Regions from separate parts of the Homo sapiens genome. Here region 2 is linked to region 1. The links come from fine-mapping of genetic effects on gene expression. A gene starts in region 1. The other region holds a variant in brackets. All regions are shown on one strand. Distances are from middle to middle. Region 1 holds the start of ROM1 (retinal outer segment membrane protein 1). Region 2 overlaps PLAAT3 (phospholipase A and acyltransferase 3).

What was found. PIP is the estimated chance that this variant, and not a neighbour inherited with it, causes the effect.
Region 2: its variant is fine-mapped to the expression of ROM1 in ileum (CEDAR, PIP 0.95).

What each region holds. Positions count from the first base shown.
Region 1 is chr11:62,608,410-62,624,236 of GRCh38, reverse strand. ROM1 (retinal outer segment membrane protein 1) reads right to left here and starts at 10,980. Exons shown (of 3, transcript NM_000327.4): 1 at 10,366-10,980; 2 at 9,733-9,979; 3 at 9,121-9,616. The coding sequence starts at 10,955. The coding sequence ends at 9,398. It overlaps EML3 (EMAP like 3), which reads left to right and starts at 11,462. Exons shown (of 22, transcript NM_153265.3): 1 at 11,462-11,801; 2 at 12,641-12,812; 3 at 12,893-13,150; 4 at 13,245-13,358; 5 at 14,541-14,608; 6 at 14,760-14,883; 7 at 15,105-15,275; 8 at 15,432-15,501; 9 at 15,585-15,695. The coding sequence starts at 11,780. B3GAT3 (beta-1,3-glucuronyltransferase 3) reads left to right here and starts at 2,251. Exons shown (of 5, transcript NM_012200.4): 1 at 2,251-2,371; 2 at 3,566-3,740; 3 at 6,890-7,250; 4 at 7,441-7,731; 5 at 8,438-8,941. The coding sequence starts at 2,290. The coding sequence ends at 8,536. RefSeq lists silencers at 2,127-2,536, 11,096-11,975 and enhancers at 6,590-7,090, 7,091-7,591, 10,986-11,045, 11,819-12,378, 12,379-12,937 and 1 more.
Region 2 is chr11:63,601,275-63,610,020 of GRCh38, reverse strand. All of the region lies in intron 2 of PLAAT3 (phospholipase A and acyltransferase 3), which reads left to right. Among named protein-coding and RNA genes, the nearest start is that of PLAAT3, 8.8 kb to the left of the region's middle. RefSeq lists enhancers at 4,109-4,874, 8,117-8,618. The variant T/GTGTT (reference allele first, on the strand shown) is at 3,596.

The DNA of each region.
Region 1 (15,827 bases):
TTGAACTCCTGACCTCAGGTGATCTGCCCGCCTTGGCCTCCCAAAGTGCTGGGATTACAGGCGTGAGGCACCATGCCTGGCCATGGGCCTTACATTTTCATTTGGCTTCAGCATAAGCATCCTTTTTGGGTTTTTTTTTTTTTTTTTTGAGATGGAGTCTCACTGTTGCCCAGGCTGGAGTGCAATGGTGTGATCTCGGCTCACTACAACCTCTGCCTCCCAGGTTCAAGCGATTCTCTTGCCTCAGCCCCCAAGTAGCTAGGACTACAGGCACCTGCTACCACGTCTGGCTGATTTTTGTATCTTTAGTAGAGATGGGGTTTCACCATGTTGTCTCGAACTCCTGGCCTCAAGTGATCCACCTGCCTCGGCCTTCCAAAGTGCTGGGATTACAGGGATGAGCCACTGTTCCCGGCCAGCATGAGCATCCTTGATTTCAGCAAAATGAGCAAGTGCAAGCCTTCCTTGGGTTGCTAGATATTTTCGTAGAAGAGCCCAGCAAGATCATCACATTTTAGTAGGCCTAGTTAGTAAGTGGTGATCAGAGCCAATGGAGTCCCTCTTGGATAGAAATAGCCATAAGGTCAGATAGCTGTTTCTCAAACTAAACTTTTGGAGGATGTCGGGGGTTGAGGAGACATAGTTTCGCTCTATTGCTCAGGCTGGAGTGCGGGGAGTGCTGTGGTATGATCCTGGCTCATTGCAGCCTTGACCTCCCAGGCTTCTAAAGTTCTGGGATTACAGGCATCGATCACTGTGCCCAACCTAGAGGCTTCTGCTTGTAGCTAACAGCACTTTTGTTTTTGTTTTTGTTTTTGAGACGGAGTCTCCCTCAGTCGCCCAGGCTGGAGTGCAGTGGTGCGATCTCGGCTCTTGGCAAGCTCTGCTTCCCGGGTTCACGCCATTCTCCTGCCTCAGCCTCCTGAGTAGCTGGGACTGCAGGCGCCCGCCACTACACCCTGCTAATTTTTTTGTGTTTTTTAGTAGAGACGGGGTTTCACCGTGTTAGCCAGGATGGTCTCGATCTCCTGACCTCGTGATCCGCCTGTCTCGGCCTCCCAAAGTGCTGGGATTACAGGCGTGAGCCACCGCGCCCAGCTGCTAACAGCACTTTTTAAAGTTTCCCATTGTTTTAGTGACAGGAAGTATACTGTTCCCCCTTCCCCTCATTTTGTAGACTGACCACAAGTCAGAGATTATTTTACCAGAAACTTTTTTTGGGGGGTTATTTTTTTTTTGAGACGGTCTCACCCAGTCACCCAAGCTGGAGTGCAGTGGCATGATCACGGCTCACCACAGCCTCAGCCTCCCATGTCAGCCTCCCAAGTAGCTGGGACTGTAGGCCCGCGCCATCACACCCAGCTAATTTTTGTGTTTTTTTTGTAGAGACGGGGTTTTGCCTTGTTGCCCAGGCTGATCTGAAACTCCTGGGCTTCTAAAGTGCCAGGATTACAGGCATGAGCCACTGGGCCGGGCCCTTTTTTTTTTTTTTAAAGGAAAAATGAGAAGGATGGCTTGTGCTTGTGAGGAGGAAGGGGATGCATTCATGGAATTCCCCAGCTCAGGAACTATTTCCAATCAATTTCCTGGTAGTTAAAACACTTCCTTGGCACCCCTGTTGTCATCTGTTGAAGAAATGTGGGCCAGAGGACACACTAGAGATGCTGGAATCGGGTGTCCAGAAAGGACACAAAACTGCCCTGTGGCAATGACATAATTTTTGTCAACTTTGGTTTCTTATCTATCTCAAAGTATTATAGTGAGGATTCCAGGAGAGACACCCAGAGGATCATGTGGTGGGCCTTAGATTTCATTCGTGTAATAAGTATTGAGCAACAGCTATTGGGTGGCGTGACTGACTGGATGGATGAATAAGGTGAAGATCTGGGCGCCAGGACTGGCTTTCTCAGGCAATTCCGTGATGAGGGGGCGGGTCTCGAGGTAGGTACCACGTGCACCTACTCGAGATTCTGCACCTACCCGGGGTTTTGACTGCCGGCCACGCGAGTTTGGCACGCCGGATGTGACGTCACCACCCGGTGGTTCCCGGAACCTGGCGGTGGGACCGGAAATCAAGTCTACAAGGCGGGGGGGTGCACAGATGACCGGAAGCGTGCCCTGGCGGCGCTGCCAGCCCCAGCTGGGAGCTGGTAGGGGAGTGCGAGGAAGGCGGGACGCAGGGCGGAGCCGCTGCAGGGGCGGGGCCTGCGGACAGGAGCCGGGGTTTGGGGCGGGAACCCCTCGTCCCCTGCAGACCCCGCCTGCTCGGGCGCGGGCGGCGGCGCGGCCATGAAGCTGAAGCTGAAGAACGTGTTTCTCGCCTACTTCCTGGTGTCGATCGCCGGCCTCCTCTACGCGCTGGTACAGCTCGGTGAGCGGGGCGGGGCGGGGGTGCGGCGGGCTGGCCCGAGGGCGCCCGCCGCCGTGCATCCCGCCCTGGGGATGAACCCCCGGCAAACACCATTCATCCGCTCGGCCCTCCGGACAGCTCTGCGGCCTCAGGCGCACTGCCCTCTATAGAACGCACCGCGGCTACCCGCCGCACCTCGGATGAAATCCAGACTCCTTCCCAGAGCCTGCAAGGCCCCGCATGATCCTGCTGCCGTCCGCCTCTCCCAACCCCATTTCCACCCCTCTCCCTCGCTCTGCTGCAGCCAGACTGGCTTGCTGACAGTTTCTCGAAAACCCCACGCTCATTACTCTCTCAAGCACTTAACTTGTTCCCTCTGCTTGGGGTGCTTTGCTTCCAGCGTTTCCCGGGCTGCCTCTTTCTCATCCTTCAGGTCTTAGCTCAAATGTCACCTCCTCAGAGAGGCCTTCCCTGACCACCATAGCTAAAGTTACCATTCTTAATTCCATTCCCTTTTATTCTCTATCCTGATTATTTTCTTCATGGCCCCATCACAGTTTGTAATAATGTTATTAATTTGTTTCTTTGCTTAGTGTCTGCTTCCTCCACTAAACAGAAAGCTCGATGAGGGCAGGGACTGTGTCTGTTTTGTTCCCTGCTGTATCCCCAGCACCTAAGGCAGTGCCTCCTAGGAAGAGTATTCAATAAATATTTATCCTACGATGGAATCAATGAATTTAACAATGAGTCTTTGGTCACCTAGCCAAGGGAATGGATCGAACCCTGCCCCTTATGCAAAGATTTAGGGACAGTGCCACTGCGTTATCCTCAGGTATTTGAAAGACTGTCCAAAAGGGGTTCCATAGTGTAATGGTTAGTTGGCACCTTGGACTCTGAAAAGACTGTCCTGTTTAAGGACATGAGCTTGTTAGAAGCCCAGAAGGCAAAATTAGGACCAGCAGGTAGAAAAGATGGAATCAGCTCAATATCCAACATAAAATTGTAACAATGGAATTTATTAAAGTTGGAGAGGGTCTGCTGCTTGAGGCAGTGAGTTTCCCACACGAGAGGTATAGAAAAGGCTACTAGGGAAGTCATAAGGTGATACCTGCATTGGTTAGGAATTAATGAGACGATTACGGCCCTTTGGGATGCTGAACATTCTGCGGTTCTCTGTCCCCACCTTCTTTCCCCATTAATGCTTCCTGGGACCAGGCCAGCCATGTGACTGCCTTCCTCCCCTGCGGGCAGCAGCCGAGCAGCTACGGCAGAAGGATCTGAGGATTTCCCAGCTGCAAGCGGAACTCCGACGGCCACCCCCTGCCCCTGCCCAGCCCCCTGAACCCGAGGCCCTGCCTACTATCTATGTTGTTACCCCCACCTATGCCAGGTATGGGCTCTGGTGCACTCAAGAGGTCTGCGTTGTCCAAGAAGTTGGAGTTGATGATGAGGAGTTTGGGGAGGCACTGGGCTAGGAGTTGTTCCTCAAACTAGAGCATGCCAAAGACAGGATAAATGAACCACATTTATACTCAAATATTTGTGGGAAAATAGTTCTTTTTCAGGCTGGGTGTGGTGGCTCACGCCTGTAATCCCAGCACTTTGGGAGGCCGAGGCGGGTGGATCACCTGAGGTCAGGAGTTCGAGACCAGCCTGGCCAACATGGCAAAACCCCGTCTCTACTAAAAATACAAAATTAGCCAGGCGTGGTGGCGCATGCCTATAATCCCAGCTACTGGGGAGGCTGAGGCAGGAGAATCCCTTGAACCTGAGAGGCGGAGGTTGCAGTGAGCTGAGAGTGCGCTATTGCACTCCAGCCTGGGCAACAAGAGTGAAACTCCATCTCAAAAACAAAACAAAACAAAAGAAAAAAGAAAAAAAATAGTTCTTTTTCTAGAAGGAAAATACAAAATTTCTACCAAATTATAAGATAGAACAATAACATTTCAAAGAAATTTTGAGCTTGGCAGTGAATTAACTCTCTCTCCTTAGGGACCGTTTGGCAAGAAAGTTAAAACCCCCTGATTAAAGTTGAAAGGGCTTGTCTGGGCGCAGTGGCTCACGCCTGTAATCCCAGCACTTTGGGAGCCCGAGGCTGGCGGATCGCCTGAGCTCAGGAGTTTGAGACCAGCCTGGGCAACATGGTGAAACTCTTGTCTCTGAAAAAAAAAAAAAAAAAAAAAAAAAGTTAGCTAGGCGTGATGGTGCATGCCTGTAATCTCAGCTACTCTGGAGGCTGAGGTGGGAAGATTGCTTGATCCTGGGCGGCGGAGGTTGCAGTGAGTGGAGATCATGCAGCCTGGGCGACAGAGAGAGCCCATTTCAAAAAAAAAAAAGTTGAAAGTGCTTGGCCTGATAGTCATACTAGGGTCCAGAAATAGTTATACCAGCTGTTACTTACAGTGTGTTTACTCTCTAGCAGGCACTGTATTTAGTGATTTACATTTGCTTTTGTTTTAAATCAAATGTAATTGGTTTTACTAATAAAACCAATTGGGGAATGTGGTTTTGGATCTGTAGCCATAAGGGTGTTAATACATCTTCTGGGAATCAGATGGCTGTCCCATTCACGCATAGGAAGCTCTAGACCCCACCTGCGACATGCACACACAACCAGCCCTGGGACAGGCAGGTAGATCTGAAGGATAAAGAAGTACAGAAGAGGCCAAGCCCCACGTTCCACATTCCTGGTTTGTTCCTTTTTTTTTTTTCTTCCCCCCGCCTCCCCGCAACACCGAGATGGAGTCTTGCTCTGTTGCCCAGGCTGGAGTGCAGTGGTGTGATCTTGGCTCACTGCAACCTCCACCTCCCGGGTTCAAGCGATTCTCCTGCCTCAGCCTCCCGAGTAGCTGGGATTACAGGCGTGCACCACCACACCAGGCTAATTTTTTTTTTTTTTTTCCCGAGATGGAGTCTCACTCTGTCGCCCAGGCTGGAGTGCAATGGCACGATCTCGGCTCACTGCAACCTCCACCTCCCGGATTGAAGCAATTCTCCTGCCTCAGCCCCCCGAGTAGCTGGGGTTACAAGCATGCGCCACCACACCCGGCTAATTTTTTGTATCTTTAGTAGAGATGGGGTTTCACCATGTTGGCCAGGCTGGTCTGGAACTCCTGACTTCGTGTTCCACCTGCTTCGGCCTCTCAAAGTGCTGGGATTACAGGTGTGAGCCACCATGCCTGGCCAGTAATTTTTTGTATTTTACTTTTGTATTTTTTTTTTTTTTGAGATGGAGTCTCGCTCTGTCATCTAGGCTGGGTGCAATGGCGTGATCTTGGCTCACTGCAAGCTCTGCCTCCCGGGTTCACGCCATTCTCCTGCCTCAGCCTCCCAAGTAGCTGGGACTACAGGTGCCCGCCACCACACCCAGCTAATTTTTTATATTTTTAGTAGAGATGGGGTTTCACCGTGTTAGCCAGGATGGTCTCGATCTCCTGACCTCATGATCCACCTGCCTCAGCTTCCCAAAGTGCTGGGATTACAGGTGTGAGCCACCATCCCCAGCTCTTATTTAATCTTTAAAACAACATTGTTATAAAGTACTGTTATTCCCATTTTACAGTTGAGGAAACTGAGGCTTAGGGAGATTGAGCCATTTTCCCAAATTGTCTCACATAATAAGTTACAAAACTGGATTTCAAACCCAGATCTACCTGATCCCAAAGCCTGTGCCCTTAATTTGTTTTTTTTTTTTTTTTTTTTTTTTTTTGAGACAGAGTTTCGCTCTTGTCGCTCAGGCTGGAGTGCAGTGGCACAATCTCGGCTCACTGCAACCTTCGCCTCCCGGGTTCAAGCGATTCTTCTGCCTCAGCCTCCCGAGTAGCTAGGATTACAGGTGACTGCCACCATGCCTGGGTAATTTTTTGTATTTTTAATAGAGACGGGGCTTCGCCATGTTGGGCAGGCTGGTCTCGAACTCCTAACCTCAGGTGATCCGCCCACCTCGGCCTCCTAAAGTGCTGGGATTATAGGCGTGAGCCAACATGCCCGGCCTTTTTTTTTTTTTTTTGAGATGGAGTTTTGCTGTTATCACTGAGGCTGGAGTGAAATGGTGCGATCTCAGCTCACTCCAACCTCCTCCTTCCAGGTTCAAGCGATTCTCCTGCCTCAGCCTCCCAAGTAGCTGAGATTACAGGCATGTGCCACTACACCCAGCAAATTTTTGTATTTTTTTAGTAGAGATGGGGTTTCACCATATTGGCCAGGCTGGTCTGGAACTCCAGACCTCAGGTAATTCACCTGCCTCAGCCTCCCAAAGTGTTATTATAGGTGTGAGCCACCATGCCCGGCCCTGTGCCCTTAATTTATAGTCTCCCACAGCCTGAGCTCTGGAGTTGAGGTGGGTGATGGACATGGACCAGAAGAACAGGGCAGGTGAGTGTTAGCATGAAGTTGACAGGCAAGAAAGAGGGAGTTTAGGCATTGGTTGGGAAGGGCCACAGGAGACGCAGGCAGTGGCCCAGGAGAAGCTGTCTGCCCTGGCTGGAGCAGGCAAATGGTGCCTGCCCCTTTTCCTTGTGCTGCATCTCTCCCCTGCAGGCTGGTACAGAAGGCAGAGCTGGTACGACTGTCCCAGACACTGAGCCTGGTGCCCCGGCTGCATTGGCTGCTGGTGGAGGATGCTGAGGGTCCCACCCCGCTGGTCTCAGGGCTGCTGGCTGCCTCTGGCCTCCTCTTCACACACCTGGTGGTCCTCACGCCCAAAGCCCAGCGGCTTCGGGAGGGCGAGCCTGGCTGGGTTCATCCCCGTGGTGTCGAGCAGCGGAACAAGGCCCTGGACTGGCTCCGGGGCAGAGGGGGTGCTGTGGGTGGGGAGAAGGACCCACCACCACCAGGGACCCAAGGAGTCGTCTACTTTGCTGACGATGACAACACCTACAGCCGGGAGCTGTTTGAGGAGGTGAGCACCAGGATGGGGATGGGCAAGAGACCAGGTGCGGCCAGCTTCATTCGTTACCTTGGTTAGCAGTGTTGCCGTTGGCTGCTGGGTGAGGGGCTGGAAGCAGTGGGGCAGAGTGAGCCAGGTGGCTCTTTCTGCTGCTCCCTTCCCCGGACCACCCCTCTGTTTCTTCTCTCCCGACCTCCGTTAGATGCGCTGGACCCGTGGTGTCTCAGTGTGGCCTGTGGGGCTGGTGGGCGGCCTGCGATTCGAGGGCCCTCAGGTACAGGACGGCCGGGTAGTGGGCTTCCACACAGCATGGGAGCCCAGCAGGCCCTTCCCTGTGGATATGGCTGGATTTGCCGTGGCCCTGCCCTTGCTGTTAGATAAGCCCAATGCCCAATTTGATTCCACCGCTCCCCGGGGCCACCTGGAGAGCAGTCTTCTGAGCCACCTTGTGGATCCCAAGGACCTGGAGCCACGGGCTGCCAACTGCACTCGGGTAAGGGAATGGAGATGGGCATAGAAACCTGGCTCTTGGATGGACAGGTGATGGGGGAGGTACAGTGAGACCCTGGGAATGGGTGGTTTAACCAGGAGGGACTCTCCAGATCTCTGATCAGCCTTGCTGACTCTACTGAAGGGGAAGCTGGGAACTAGCGGGGGAAAGTGGTCTCCTGCCACTCTGCCCCGAGTTCTGGGAACCCATGTGGCACAGAGAGGATGAAGGAATAAGGCCCTGTTTGTTGTTTTTTTTTTTTTTTCAGACAGAGTCTCGCTGTGTCACCCAGGCTGGAGTGCAGTAGCGCAATCTTGGCTTAGCGCAAGCTCCGCCTCCCGGGTTCACACCATTCTCCTGCCTCAGCCTCCCAAGTAGCTGGGACTACAGGCACCCGCTACCACGCCCGGCTAATTTTTTTGTGTTTTTAGTAGTGACGGGGTTTCACGGTGTTAGCCAGGATGGTCTCAATCTCCTGACCTCGTGATCCGCCTTCCTCGGCCTCCCAAAGTGCTGGGGTTACAGGCGTGAGCCACGCGCCCGGCCAAGGCCCGGTTTTAGAGGCACTAAGTCTTCCTCCACCCTGCCCTTTACACTTTGAAGCCTATACTGTATATGTCGATAGGGTTAGAGAATCCATTCCAGGCTCGGGGACCCAGAGGCCTGGCTGCAGCTGGGCCTGGCTCTCACTGCATCCCTCCTGGCACAGGTACTGGTGTGGCATACTCGGACAGAGAAGCCCAAGATGAAGCAGGAGGAGCAGCTGCAGCGGCAGGGCCGGGGCTCAGACCCAGCAATTGAGGTGTGATGGCGGCCCCACCCCAACTACCACCTCTTTTCAGGCACAGACCTTGTGGGACTGGGCCCCAGGCCTGCCCAGGATGTGGTTTTCCAAGTCCTGACCCTTGGAGCCAGAAGTGGCCCCTCTGCCCCTCCAGGCCCAGGGCATGGTCCTGCTGCTTCACCCCTCCCCTAGCCTGCCGTGTGGCACTGCCCACAGGCTGGGGACAAGCAGCCCTTGTGTTGAGTCAGGTTGGCCCTGTCTAGGGTGGAACAGAAGGACAGATGGACCCAGGAGGGAGGGCAGCTGAGTAACTGGGTAACTTATTGGGGCTGGGCATGCACTGGGGGGCTGGAGGAGCTGGGCTGGACCCTTCCCACCTGAGCATGCTGACCCCCTTCCTACCTCCAGAATAAAGAATCTCAACCTGGAGGGGCCTCTTGTTTTCCTTTGCTTCTTACATTGGGTTCTTGCTTTCTGATCCTTACAGATGTGGGCTCCTGTTGCTGCACAGGTCGAGCCAGGGTCCAAACTTTGGAGTCCTAGCTGCTCCATCAGACAGAAATCAGTTCTCCCAGGCCCCCATCCCCTTGACAAGAAAAAGCAATTGCTTCCATCCAAAAACTTTATTGAGTCTATATCAGAATCAGCCTCCAGGCCTTCTCATGTCACTTTCCCATCACTCTGTTCTTTGCTGTTCCCTGGTGGTTCTGACTACAAGGGCTAGGCCCTAGGACATCTGGTTTTCTTTCTTACCCCAGTCCAGCTCGCTGACTATCCTTAGCCCCTCTAATCCTACGATCCCCCCAACCTGGAGCCTTGGTAAGGAGTTGTGAGGTTTTCAGACTTGTCCATCCCTCCCTCTTCCTCACCCCAAGCTCCAGGCCTCTAGGCCTCAGATAGATCCTCCTTGGGAGGTGCTTCTCCTGGTGGGGCCTCCTCAGGTGCTGGCCTGCAGGCAACCCCTCCCTGTAGCCATGCTGTTTTCAGCATATCTTTCAGCCCACTGGGAAAGAGATAGCCCTGGGTCTCTCCTCCCGCATCAATGACCCCTCCAAGCCCCTCCAGTGCTGTTTGCAGGTACCGCAGGCCAAGGAGCACCAGAGCCTGTGGGGGAAGCAAGGGGAAAGAGTCAGGGAGAGTCAGCGGTTCCAAGAGGCCCAGGGTTGGAGGCAGGGAGGAGTCCCGGGTGGGAGGAGGTGTCAGATGCTTTGCTGACTCACCTGCAGTAGGAAGGTGACAGCCAGCATGCTACCCAGTGTGCCTGCCAAGTCCTGCAAGTGCTCCAGCAGCACCTCATGGCACCCTTGGGCCCAGAGGTTTTGGTTGGGTTGTCGGGGATCGAACAGGGGGTGGGCGTAGGAGTCTGAAAGACGGTTTTGCAGGCAAGGCCGGGGTGAGTGGGGGTTGCAACAGGAGAAAGGGACCCCATCAGTCAGGTATAGGCCTTCTACATTGCTCTGGATCCGGCTGCAAAGGGAGGGACAGAGGGGTTAGGATGTCTGGAGATAGAGGCCTGGGGGAGGGACTGAAGGGCACAGGTGTTCAGAAGGGAAAAAGAATAGTAAAACATTTACTGACTGCTGTACTATGTGCCAGCCAAGCATAATTCACATCTTCACAACAACTCTATCAGATAAGTACTATTATTTCCATTTTACAGGTGAAGGAATGGGCCCAGGGTGGTTTGGTAACATGCCCTGGGTTTCACAGCTAATAAATGGCAGAGCTGTAACCAGTCTCTCAGCCACTATGTTCTACTTATTGCCCCTCTGAGCGAGGTGGGGATTCAAGGCAGCAGGAGGGAGCCTGTCCAGGGAGGAGGAGGAGGAGGAAGGGAGACGCAAATCACTCACTCAGCCACATCCCGGTCACCGGGATCCAGGTAACGGCTGCTGACCCACTGGACCCCAAACCAATCCTTGTACCCGTGGCGCCCGCAGCAGTGGTACCTCAGTTGCAGCTCATCCACCAGCCTTTTGGCCTGACAGTGCCCAGGCACCTCTGTGTCCTTGTAGTGAGCCAAGGCAGTCACCAGGCCCTCCTCCAGCGCCTCATCCAGACTCCCAGGCAAAGCCAGGGCTAGCCCGAGGCCGACGACCAGGAGCCCCCCCCCACCAGCCGTGCCAGCCACCAGCAGCGGGCCCAGGACCCCTCGCCAGGGAGGGTATAGAGCTGCATTCAGACTTGCCCGGCTGGCTCCTACACCCACTAGTCCTGTGCCCAGAGCCACCGCGCCCGCTGCCAGGGCAGCCTGGGGCAGGACAGGGAACTGACAGGAGGGAGCCAGGAAGGTGCCAAGGTGCCTTAGCTGGACCAGGAGGTGCCCACTACAGAGGAGGATGACGCCACCAGCCAGCGCCAGCAGCCAGGAGAGGAGCCAGAGCCCTTGTGCCAGGCGGATGCGGGGCTGCAGGGGCAGCACCAGGGGCAACACCGGCGCCATCTCCCATCTCTGCCCAAGGGAATGCAGAGGTGTCAGGGATGGAAGCTGGCTGGGGCAGGATGCTGAGTCAGCCCGGCCCGGCTTGAGCTGGGCTAATGCCACCCTGACCCCAATACCCTGAGCATCCTCCCATCCTCAGCCCTAATAACCCGCCCCCCTGTCAGCCCCAATACAAGATGCCTTGGCCTTGCCCCTTACGAGAAACTCCGCCCCTAGGCCGAGGGCCCGTTTTGTGACCCCGCCCCTGCCCCTCGCGGAAGTGGTGGGGTTGGTCCGCTCAACCCTGAGGGGTTAGGGGCTGGGGGGCGGAGATATCGGGGCGGGCGCTCCCTTCCCCGTCCCCTGGGAATCCGGGGGCGGGGATCCGGGAAGGGCCTGGAGCCGGAGGCCGGGAGTAGGCCAGGGGGTCAGCCGGCTAGCCCCGCCCCCGTACTGAGCGGCGAGGCCCGGACAGGGAGGGGTTACCAAGCGGCCCGGCCCCCCCTCGGGCCCGCCCCCCCTCCCGCGCTTCCTGGCGGCTCCGCGTCCGGCGCCTGTTTGTGCTGCGGCGCTGTGGCACCGGACGGCCCTGCCACCCCACCCCCGGGAGCCGAGAGCGGCCCCGGGAGAGTCCGAGGGCCCGGGGGGGTCTGGAGACTGCGGCCCCGGGCCCACAGCGCCCCCTCCAGGCCCCTTCCCCGCGCCCGACAGCGCCCCCTCGGGGTGGTGGTACGGCGCCCTTCGCGCGCGCCCCGGGGTGCTTCCCCTTCCCCTCTCCCCGGCCGTGGCCCCCGCGGCTTAGACGCCTCCTCCGCCGCCGCCGCTCGGAGCAACCCGGGGGCCGGATGGACGGGGCCGCGGGGCCCGGTGAGTACGGGGCGGGGCGGGCGGCGTGCCCCTTCCCGGAGCGCCCGGCTCGTCGGGTTATGCCAGAGCTGGACGGCTGTCTGGAGGCGTCCCCGCGTGCTCCTCCGCCCCAGGGGCTCCGAGCATCCTCCACAGTTCCTCCGGTCGCCCTCCCTAGTTGCTTGGGTCTTGCTGTCACTTCGGGCTTCCCCAGCGTCATTCTACGCCCCACGTAACTCCGGGCCCCTCGATGTTTCCCTGCCCCCTGCGTTACTCCGGGCCTCTTCTCGTGGTATTTCAGGTCTTTTTCCTTCTGATCCCCACTGCCCCCTGAGACCTTCACTGTGACTCTGCTCACCACTCACACTCTCTCCTGTCACTCTGGATCTCTTTTCTTGTACTCTGGGTCCTCAGTATGACTCCATTCCCGCACCCCGTTCTCTCTCCTGGTGTTCCCCCGGCTCAGTTACTCAGCTTTCGCTGGAGACCTGAGCTTGCTGGGGGCGCGTGGGGAGGGCTGCGGTCCCTGCCCTCACCAGTGCGGCGCCTCTCTCTGTGGCTCCCACGTTCCTCGGCAGTACTCCATATTTCCCCCCCGGTACTCCATGGTACTCCCAGTCTTTGCGGAGGCTGAGACGGCAGCAGGAAGGGAGCTTTGCCAGGTTTCTCGCCTGCCCTGCCAGAAGGAGGCCCTTGATCCTTTACCACCGTCTCCTCCCCTCTGGACGAGCATTCAAGCCTGGGGCTGCCTGAAAGGGGCAGTCCTACCGGACACATGTAAAGTTGTGGGGAGACAGAATCCCCTCTACGCTTTCTTCAGGTGATGGGTACATTCTGAGTACCTCTTGCCCTTTTCCCAGGTGACGGCCCTGCTCGGGAGGCCCTCCAGTCTCTGAGCCAGCGGCTTCGGGTGCAGGAGCAGGAGATGGAACTGGTAAAGGCAGCCCTGGCAGAAGCCCTTCGCCTGCTGCGGCTGCAGGTGCCCCCTTCCTCCCTGCAGGGCTCTGGCACACCAGCTCCTCCGGGGGACAGGTATGCATGTCATCACACCCCATTTTTCCTCCTCCTTGGGGCCTCTGGGGCTTCAGGTTAATTCAACATCTCTCCAGCAGTCTTGCAGCCCCCCCAGGACTGCCACCCACGTGCACCCCTTCCTTGGTGAGCCGAGGCACCCAGACGGAGACAGAGGTGGAGCTCAAGTCATCCCCTGGACCCCCTGGCCTGAGCAATGGACCCCCAGCCCCTCAGGGGGCCAGCGAAGAGCCTAGCGGGACCCAATCTGAAGGAGGGGGCAGCAGCAGCAGTGGTGCTGGCTCCCCTGGCCCCCCGGGGATCCTCAGGCCCTTGCAGCCCCCACAGCGTGCTGACACGTAGGTGTCCTGTGGCCCTGTGGCGGAAGCTGGGAGGGGTGGTAGGATTGCAGAGTACAGTTGGAGGGAATGACCTTCACTATGCCCCCACCAGGCCGCGAAGAAATTCTTCCTCCTCCTCATCCCCCTCAGAGCGGCCTCGGCAGAAGCTCTCCAGGAAGGCAATCTCCTCCGCCAACCTGTTAGTGCGGTCCGGGAGCACAGAGAGGTGGGTGAGGCTTCCCCTCAACCCACCCCGCCCCAGGCGCAGGCTCTCGACTTTCCATATCCCTCACCTCACATCCCTGGTTGGGGTGGGGGGACCTGATTGCCCAACAGGAATAAAGAAACAAACACTTCTGGGGCGCCTGCTGTGTACCGGGCACTGTGCTAAACCCTCGACCTCCTCCATCTCAGTCAGTCCCCACAACATCCTTGGGGGTTAGGTGGTCTCATGCTGCTCATTGCACAGGTGAGGAAGCAGGCTCAGAGAGGGTAAGTCATTTGCCTGGGGTCACACAGCTAGAGTCAGGATTTGAACCTAACTCTTCCTGACTCCAGTTCCCCTACCCTTTCCACTACATCACAGCACACCTTCTGCGATCCCAAGAGGCTTTTCTAGAAGCTTCCATGGCTTTCATGGACGGCTGTCCCTAGAGCTTCAGCCCTCTTTCCGCTGGATCTACCAAGTACCAATCTATTAATACTTACTTCTAGAGGGCAAGAGGACATCCTAGTGGCCGGATGTAGTTGCCTCAGAGTATGTACGGGCCCCAGGACACCCGGATGTTCATTCTAGCCCTGTCCTTGGCCTGTGCTTTATTCTCTGAAGAGACAGTATCACTTTACTGTTATCTAACGACAGGAATCTCTGGAGAGATGTGGACTTTCTTGCTTGCCTCCCGGATCCCTGAGAGGCGGAGCTGGTGTACATTCTCGACTCCCTTTGGTCCCATTTTACGGATGGGGAAATGAAAAGGTCAATAGCGGGGCCTAGTGGCGCGCACGTGTAATCCCAGCTACTGGGGAGGCTAAGGCAGGAGAATTGCTTGAACCCAGGAGGCGGAGGTTGCAGTGAGCTGAGGTCGCACCACTGCACTCCAGCCTGGGCGACAGAGCGAGACTGAGGCCTGGTGGTCTGGAGGAGAGAAAGGGCTCTGGCACCCTGCACTGCCTCTTCCAAGCTTTGTGGCCTTGTGCTGTGCGCTCAGCCCCTTCAGCCTCAATCTTCTTATCTCTTAAATGGAACTAGAAGTCTCCATCTACTAGGGCCCTGATACTCACGAAGCAAACTACAGGCTTGCAGAAGTGACTGTGGTTTCTGCAGTGACCTCTTTTCTTGTGTCCTGCCCCTCCCCGCTTAGGTCTTGGGACCTGACCCCAATCCCTGTGCTTTCTCTCTTCCCAACAGCCGTGGGGGAAAAGACCCCCTCTCCAGCCCTGGGGGCCCTGGATCTCGGAGGAGCAATTACAATTTGGGTATGTAAAGAGGGACAGAGAGGAAAACTTGGATGGCAGGGTTAGGATTTGGGCTGTAGCCCCAGGAGCTATTTTGGGTAGGTGTGGTGGGTAGGGTTCTGCTCTGTCTTTCCTGGAAGGGGGTAGTTGACACCACCCCTTTTCTCTGTAGAAGGCATCTCAGTGAAGATGTTCCTTCGAGGGCGCCCCATTACCATGTACATCCCGTCTGGCATCCGCAGCCTTGAGGAGCTGCCGAGTGGCCCACCGCCAGAGACCCTCAGCCTTGACTGGGTGTATCCTGCCCCTTCCAGTCCCATGAGAACCACCTTTCTCACCTTGGGACCCCTCTTACCTTTACAGTTTCCTCCTGGGTCTGTGGGGACAAGGAGCCTTCTAGATCCTCTCCTACCATCATTCTGCTCTAGGCCCTGCCAGCCAGAAGCTCTGTCTTTCTCCCCTCTTCCTCCTCCTGCCCTTGATCTAACCCTTTCCTTGACCGTGATCTCCACCCCAGTTATGGGTACAGGGGTCGTGACTCCCGCTCTAATCTGTTTGTGTTGCGCTCTGGGGAGGTGGTCTACTTTATCGCCTGTGTGGTGGTGCTGTACCGGCCTGGAGGAGGCCCAGGGGGTCCTGGAGGTGGCGGCCAGAGACATTACCGGGGGCACACAGACTGCGTTCGATGGTGAGGAGTCCGGGGCTGGTGGGCTTGGCAGGAAGAGGGTCTGGGGGGATGGAGAAGCAGGAGAAAAGAGTTGCCTTGCTGCTCTGCAAGCTTGGAGAAGGTGTCTTGGATGGTCTTGAGAGACCCTTTCCCTAGAGTGTCTTCCCCCTGCCTTAGCCTTGCTGTTCACCCTGATGGTGTTCGGGTAGCCTCGGGACAGACAGCTGGAGTGGATAAGGATGGAAAGGTAAGGCCAAAGTCAGGGAGCAGGCAGACATGCTGGAATTGCACTCCAATTTTGCTTCACACTTGTGACTCTTCCTCCACCAGCCCCTGCAGCCTGTGGTTCACATCTGGGACTCAGAGACGCTGTTGAAACTGCAGGAGATTGGACTGGGGGCCTTCGAGCGGGGTGTTGGGGCCCTGGCCTTTTCAGCTGCGGTGAGCTGGCCCTGAAGCCTCTAGACCCCCATTCTTGCCTAGGAACCCCACTCTTGCATGTCACCAGGAAGCCTTGGAAGTTCTGGCCTTCCTGAACCCCACCCAGCTGGTTCTCTTGAGAAAGGGCCATGT
Region 2 (8,746 bases), 990 kb before region 1:
TCTCTGAGCTCAGTTTCCCGATTGGTAACATGGGGCTCTTATAAGGATTCCAGGTAACAGGTGAAAACCCCCAGTAGTGCTTGGTGGTAGTGGTGGGGGTGAGTAGAGGGGCAGTTCTGACTCACCAGAAGGTGAGGTTTGCCCTGTAGGAGAATAGGCCTGGGCCTGGTGGTCAAAGTCTGGGAGGGTGGATGAGTTTTGCTTCCTTTTCCAGGATGTTTATGACCTTTGGGCTGCTGAGGCTGGGCCTGGTGCCTGCCAGAGCTGCCAGTATCTTTCCCCCACTTGCTAAGAGGCCTGGGCACAGGGTGGCAATAAGGGAAAGTGTAATGTGTCAGGCCAGCTGCTGTTCATCCCTCCTCCTCCTTCTCTCTCTGCCCGAGGCTGGGAATCTGGGCAGCCAGGCCTCCTTCTCCTCCCTGTCCTCACCCAGCCTGCGTGCGGCATGGGGTCTCAACCCTCTCGTAGGCATAAGTGCTTTTACAGCTTTCACTTCCATTATTTCAATGATTCTTTACACAAACCCTGCCAGATGGGTCTTAGCCCTGTTTACCAGAGAAGTTCAGAGAGGTGAAGTGATCCTTGGAGATCACACAGCAATAGAGTACAGAGGGGCTCAGTTGAGGCCCCCGGAGGTGGGCTGGGCCCTGTTTCTGGGAATGCAGCCTCAGAAAATAGAGACCTAGCTTCTTATGGGTTTTTCTTTTCCTAAAACCTTGGCACCAAAACTCCCAACTGGGAAGTCTTTTCTCAGTACCCACCTTGGACTTTAGCCTTTCCATTTATCACAGGCTTTCCCCCCAGGGCGTCAGAAGTGAAGGGGGTGAGTTTAGGGGTTTCCACACTCACCACAGAATGTGGTTTTGGGACATGGAGAATTCGTTTCATTCTGGGTTTCACAGCCTCCACAGTGTCTCCACCTGGTCCGAGAGCGGTCTGTGACCTTTCCAAATCAAAAATAATGACAACATCCTGGGGAACGGTGGCAGTAAAAGCTGCCAGTTAGTGAATGGCTCCTACGTTATCAAGCCCTATTTACTGAGTGTTTTTTAGATATTAACTCTGTTCATCCTCAGGATAATCCCACAAATCAGGTGCTGTACCTATCCCCATTTTGCAGCTGAGGAAACTGAGGTTAGGAGTAATTAGGTAACTTGGCCAAGACTATATAGTTAGTAAGTAGTAGAGCTCAGATTTGAACACAGGGCCCCCAAGTGTGTAATCGCTATGCTGTTTCTGAAAATTAAATTCATCTTGATTTAAAAACAGAGCACTCATGCTCTTTATCCCACTTTCTGTATTTTTTGTAGTCCTGAAATATGTCATAAACAACCCCAAACCCTCAAACTCTGATGAGACAAATGGCACGTAGGTGGATTGGAATGCTTCCTGCATAGCCTTGAGTGAAAGAAAAACATTCTTTTTGTTTTGTTTCAACCCTTGGGTTAAAAAGTATTCTGAAAGCATCCTCACTGTCCTCCCTGGTCCCGCACAGTGCCAGAGCCGGGGGTCTTGGACTGAGTCAGAGTTGCATGGGTGCATCTGGAGGGACCTTGATTGGAGAGAGGTAAAGTCCGCTGTAGGGTGGGGCTGTCTTCTTTTTCTTTGCAGGGGTGAGGAAGAGGCTGGTTGCCACTTTCAGGCTGCCCTGGGCAGGTGATGTTACCTCCCTTAGCTCCAGTTTCCCCACCTGTGAAATGAGGCATGACTGCCATCTTAACCCAACTCTTCAGTCTCCCCACCTCTCCCTTTTAGACAACCCTTCTCCTGTGGCCTTGCTCCAGGCTACACAGTAGAATCACCTGGGAACTTTGTTTTAATTAATTAATTAATTAATTTGAGATGGAGTCTTGCTCTGTCGCCCAGGCTGGAGTGCAGTGGCACGATCTCGGCTCACTGCGACCTCTGCCTCCCGGGTTCAAGCAATTCTCCTGCCTCAGCCTCCCGAGTAGCTGGGACTACAGGCACGTGCCACTACGCCTAATTTTTTATATTTTTAGTAGAGACGGGGTTTCACTGTGTTAGCCAGGATGGTCTCGATCTCCTGACCTCGTGATCTGCCTGCCTCGGCCTCCCAAAGTGCTGGGATTACAGGCGTGAGCCACTGTGCCCGGCCCACCTGGGAACTTTAAAAAAAATTCCAGGCTTGGGCTCCACCCCAAGAACCCTGCTTCTGACCAAACCCCAAAAGCACCTTGAGATTCCCACTCACCACAGTGGAAGCCCCTGCCCTGCCTGCCCTCTCCTTCCGCCTCCTCCTTATCTCCTGCTTGCCTCTCTCCGTACATCTCCATAAAGGCTACTTCCTCCCCACCAGCTTCTATGATTGCAGCACGGTGTGTAGGATTTGGATGTCCTTAGATCTGGGTTTAAATTATGTCTCTACCACATACAAGTTTCCCTCATCTTTCAAGACCGAAACAAAAATCTCAGGTGCTCAGGTGCTCTCTTTGACATCACCTCCAGTTCATCTTCTCCCATTCTCTCTCTTTTCTTTATTATTATTATTATTATTTTTTAAATTTTAGAGATGGGGTCTCACATGTTTCCCAGGCTGGCCTTGAACTCTTGGCTCAAGTGATCCTCCAGCCTCAGCCTCCTGAGTAGCTGGGACTACAGGCACATGCCACTGTGTCCCCATTCTCTCAAACACATTTCAGCCAGGCTTTTGCCTCCAACTCTCAGGAGGAGCTGATCTCATAAGGAACACGGATGATCCTCATTCTAAACCATGACCCCTAGCTCCATACTGATGTGTGCGCTGTGTCCCCGCCTCTCGTTGGGATACCCGCTGCCCAGCGTGAGTGCCTGGTTCTCCCCCAGCCTACTCTGTCTCTAAACAGCCCCATCCCGCCTCCCAGTTGCTCTGTCCAGACACCTTGGAGTCATCTGACTCCTCTTTCCTTCACACCCCACCTCATTCCATCAGCACAGTCGGTGGGCTGCAGCTTCAAAGGAGATCCAGCATCCATTACTACTCATGCCCAGATCCCCCCTCTCTGCAGTTGCCTCCTAGCAGGCTCCCGCCTCCTCCTTGCACCCTACATCTCATCTCTTCTCAACGGAGCAGCCAGAGGGACCCTTTTAAAACCCAAGTTGGATCCTGAGTCTCCTGGGTTCTAAACTTGGCAGTGGCCCCTGCCAGTGACAGAGGCAAAGGTGTAGCGCTGTCAGGTGCTGCGTTGCCTTCCGGACCGGCTGCTTTTCTTGGACCCTCCGTTCTACCCCCGCTTCCCACCCTCTGCCCTCCCCGCACGCCTACTCCGGCCTCGTTGGCCTCCTTGCTGTTGCTCAGACACGCGCCCCGCTGGGGCCTTTGCTCGGCTGCTCCCCCTGCCGGAGGTGTTAGCCATCTGCAAGGCTCATCTCCGGCCTCCAGGCGAGGCCGCCTCCAGCTCGCTGCTCTGGGAGTCTCCCTGACTCTCTAATTCCTATTGCACCCCGTGCCCCCACCCCACCAGCGCTCAGCTCCCGACCCTGCTCCGCTCTGCTTTTTGTTTCTTTCTGTTGGTTTCGGATCTCTTCTCATATTCTAGATTATTTACTTATTTACTAAGGTGTGTGTGTGTGTGTGTGTGTGTGTGTGTGTGTGTGT[T/GTGTT]TTATAGTAGAGACGGGGTTTTGCCATGTTGGCGAGGCTGGTCTTGAACTCCTGACAGGTGATCCACCCGCCTCGGCCTCCCAGCGTGCTGGGATTACAGGCGTGAGCCACCGCGCCGGCCTACTAAGGTATTTTTTTAAAAACCTTTTGTCTCCTGTTACTGAACAAAAAGCTCCACGCCCTGATCACAGAGCCCAGGTGCCTAGATTGGTGCCGGGCGCACAGCTCAGCCAGTGTATGGGTTTCTAGGCCCTCCAAAGCAGAGGTGGGCATCCTCCCAAGGTGAAGGGGTTCTCCAGGGGTGTCGTTGGCCGCTTACACCGCGCTCTTGATGGCGGAAGAGGGGAATTGCCAAAAAGCTATAGTGATCCTGCATGTCAGCAACCCCCTCTTCTGTAATTGGTGCAGGCTCAGGTCTGAGAACCACAGCTGCGGATCAAGACTGCAGGCTTGGAGTCAGGAACCCCGTGAACTTGAGCACAGAGCGCGGGTCGGCTGTGTTGTCATTGCCCTGACATCGCTTGGGACTCCCTCAGTGCGTTAGTTCTTAAATTAAACAAACAAACAAACAAAGGGCCAGGCGCGGTGGCTCATGTCTGTAATCTTAGCACCTTGGGAGTCTGAGGCGGGTGGATCACGAGGTCAGGAGATCGAGACCATCCTGGCTAACATGGTGAAACGCTGTCTCTACTAAAAATACAAAAAATTAGCCCGGCATGGTGGCGGGCGCCTGTAGTCCCAGCTACTCGGGAGGCTGAGGCAGGAGAATGGCGTGAACCCGGGAGGCGGAGCTTGCAGGGAGCCGAGATCGCGCCACTGCACTCCAGCCTGGGCGACAGTGCGAGACTCCGTCTCAAAAACAAAAACAAAAACAAAAACAAAGAACAAAAAAGACACTGGACAGAGGGAATGAATAGATGGACATGTTTGTGATGAAGCAAATACAGTCACATAATTGCACAATCTGTGTGGCAGGTATACAGACGTTCATTAAAAAACTTCCTTTAACTTTGTTTTGTTTTGTTTTTTGAGACAGTCTCGCTCTTGTCGCCCAGGCTGGAGTACAATGGCGTGATCTTGGCTCACTGCAACCTCTGCCTCCTGAGTTTAAGCGATTCTCTTGCCTCAGCCTCCCGAGTAGCTGAGATTACAGGCGTGCTCCACCATGCCCAGCTCATTTTTTTTGTATTTTTAATAGAGATGGAGTTTCACCATGTTGGCCAGGCTGGTCTCGCACTCTTGACCTCAGGTGATCCACCCACCTTGGCTTCCCAAAGTGCTAGGATTACAAGGCGTGAGCCACTGCGCCCGGCCTCAATTTTGAACGTTTGAAAATTTTTCGTGATAAAATGTTGAGAAGCATGCTGTAAACTTAAAAGATACTCATTGCAGAAGACCTGGAATATATAGAAAAATAGAAGGAAGCAAAAATTATCACAAAAACCACGCTTAGCCCCAGCACCCAGAAACCAGAGGGAATGTCCATTAGGATATTGTTATAGAGCTTTCTAGTCTTTTTGCTTGTGTCTGTTTTGCTATTTTTACATGATAGTGATTGTATGGATTACCACTGATTCTGTCAAGTCTTAGCTCAATTTCTGGTTCTAAAATGAACACATGCTTATTTAAACATTTTGGAAAACTAGAAAATACTTTTTTTTTTTTGAGGCAGTCTTGCTCTGTCGCCTAGATTGGAGTGCAATGGCATCATCTGGGCTCACTGCAAGCTCCACTTCTCAGGTTCAAGCGATTCTCCAGCCTCAGCCTCCTGAGTAGCTGGGACTACAGGCATGTACCACCATGCCTGGCTAATTTTTGTATTTTTTGTAGAGACAGGGTTTCACCATGTTGGCCAGGCTGGTCTCAAACTCCTGACTTCAAGTGATCCACCTTCCTTGGCCTCCCAAAGTGCTGGGATTACAGGTGTGAGCCCCCGCGCCCGGCCTAGAATATAATTAAAAAGAAAATTAATACCTTCAATTGAGAGGCAGTTTCATGAGGTTTGGCAACAGACAATATCTACATTTCCCAACTTAAAAACTGCAAGTCCATCAACATGAGTATTTTTTCCCTTTAAATACTTTTTAACATTTTTATTGTCAAAGTAATTCATATTAATAAAATTCAAACAATAAAATAATATAACATGAAATATAAAAGTTCTGAATCCCAACCACGCACTGTTGCGTATGTAATATATAACAGCTTGGTTATTTTCCTTAGCTCATATGTAGTGTATAATACGTTTTCTGTATAAATGTATAAAAAAGTCTATTATATGTATATATATTATTGAAAAAGGCTGGAGTGCAGTGGCGTGATCTCAGCTCACTGCAACCTCCACCTCCCAGGTTCAAGTGATTCTCTTGCCTCAGCTTCTCGAGTGGCTGGGACTCCAGGCATGTGCCACTATGCCCAGCTAATTTTTGTATTTTCAGTACAGACAGGGTTTTGCCATGTTGGCCAGGCTGGTCTCAAACTCCTAACCCCAAGTGATCCACCCACCTTGGCCTCCCAAAGTGCTGGGATTACAGGCATGAGCCACTGTGCCCGGCCTAAAAATGTATTTTAAGCAACAATGGAATAATAATGTCTTTCAACTTGCTTTTCTCAATTAATATTTCCATGCCTGCTCATGTAAATTCACCTTACTCTCTCTAATATCTCTGTCTGTGTGTGTGTGTGTGTGTGTGTGTGTGTGTGTGTGTGTGTGTGTGTGTGTAGGATAATTTACTTAACTAGCCCTTTTTGATGGTTGTTAGGGTTTTTTTTTCTTTTCTTTTTTTTCCTTCAACTTTTATTTTAAGTTCCAGGGTACATGTGCAGGATGTGCAGGTTTGTCACAAAGGTAAAAGTGTGCCATGGTGGTTTGCTGCACAGATCAACCCCATTACCTGGGTATTAAGCCCGGCATCCAAGCTGTTTTTTTCAATGTGAATTTCAGAGACCAGAAATTGCTCCTCAGTTTGCTTGCTAAGGAAAATGGTTGCTATGCAGCTCTTGGTAACACTGCTTTTGTGGAAAGATAAAGGCTTTTTGTTCTGAAATCCCGTGGGTGCAGAGTCTCAACTCTGCCATTGTTGTTGCGTGAGCTGTGTGGGAGAGCCTTGGTCACTGTGTGGGCTGGGGTTCTCCTGAACTTTGCCATGGAGGAGGCAGTTCTCTTCTCAGGCACTCTGCTGGCCCTGACCTTGATCCTGGAACAGAGAACTACCTGACAAGGCAGTGCAGTAGCATTCCTGGAATCAATGTAGGTTCTTTTACAATAGGGGTTGGCAAACTTTTCCTGTAAATGGACAGATAGTAAACATTTTATTATTTTATTTATTTTTTGAGATAGAGTCTTGCTCTGTTGCCCAGGCTGGAGTGCAATGGCGTGATCTCAGCTCACTGCAACCTCCGCCTCTGGGTTCAAGCGATTCTCCCTGCCTCAGCCTCCTGAGTAGCTGGGACTACGGGAGCCTGCCAACAGGCGTGGCTAATTTTTGTATTTTTAGTAGAGACAGTGTTTCACCAAGTTGGCCAGGCTGATCTCGAACTCCTGACCTCAAGTGATCTGCCTGCCTTGGCCTCCCAAAGTTCTGGGATTACAGGCATGAGCCGCTGCGCCTGGCCATCATAGTAAGCATTTTAGATCTTGCAGGCTATATGGTCTCTGTCACAACTATTCAACCCTGCTGTTGTAGAGAGGAGCCAGGGTAGACACAATGTAAATGTATGAGCCTGGCGATGTTCCACTAAAGCATTATGGACACTGAAATTTGAATTTCATATAATTTTCATGTGTCACAAAATACTATTCCTCCTTTGACTTTTCCCCCAAGCATTAAAAAAAAAAAAGTACAAACCATTCTTAGCTTGCAGGCAGACCTCTTGCAGGCAGAGGTCCAAATTTGGCCCATGAACTGCAGTTTTCATACTTCTAAATTTAGAACATGAGTTTTTGGATTCTTAGTTTTGATTCAGCTGAGATGGGTGACGTGTATAATGATAAGTACTTGTTTTTCTAGGTGGATCTTAGTGGTAGAGGTGAATTATTCATATCTTCATTTCATAGCGCCCTGTCCTTGCTGGTCCCTACAAGACTCCCCTGTCTTCTGTGTTTATTTGTTCCCTTTAATCATCATTTTTTTTTTTTTTGAGACAGTTTCACTGTCACCCAGGCTGGAGGGCAGTGGTGCGATCTTGGCTCACTGCAACCTCCGCCTCCTGGGTTCAAGTGATTCTCCTGCCTCAGCCTCCCAAGTAGCTGGTATTACAGATGTGCACCACCACGCCTGGCTAATTTTTGTATTTTTAGTAGAGACGGGGGGTTTCACCATATTGGCCAGGCTCGTCTCAAACTTCTGACTTCACGTGATCTGCCTGCCTCGGCCTCCCAAAGTGCTGAGATTACAGGTATGAGCCACTGTGCCTGGCCTCCTTTTGTTTTTTTTTTTTTTTTTGAGACAGAGTTTCGCTCTTGTCACCCAGGCTGGAATGCAATGGTGCAATCTCTGCTCACTGCAACCCCCACCACCTCCTGGGTTCAAGCAATTCTCCAGCCTCAGCCTCTCGAGTAGCTGGGATTACTGGCGTACGCCACCACGTCTGGCTAATTTTTTTTATTTTTGGTAGAGGCAGGGCTTCACCATGTTGGCCAGCCTGGTCTTGAACTCCTGACCTCGGGTGATCCGCCCACCTTGGCCTCCCAAAGTGTTGGGATTACAGGCGTGAGCCACTGCATCCGGCCATGTATCTTTAATTTATATAAGTGGCATTTTGTTACAGAGCTCATCCCCATTTTTCCACTTCGCAGTGTCTTTTAAAGATATCCAACTTGCCAAGTGACCATCAAACCCTTGCTCCTAACTAGTGTGTAGGGCTCCATAGGTGAGCCCACTGTCTTTTACTTCATTTTCAAAAAGAAGTTGTCTTGAGTGAGATTATGTGTTGAGCTTGAGCGTAATTATGTGTTGAGCTTGGGAATATGTATCTCTTGCCCTTACAAAGAATAGGCAGATTGGCTGAATGTCAAAAAAAAAAAAAAATTACAGCTTTTTTCCCTTCTAAACTGTAAATAAATATTTAAAATTTATTTATTATTATTATTTTTTGAGATGGAGTCTCACTCTGTCACCCAGGCTGGCGGATCACAAGGTCAGGAGATCG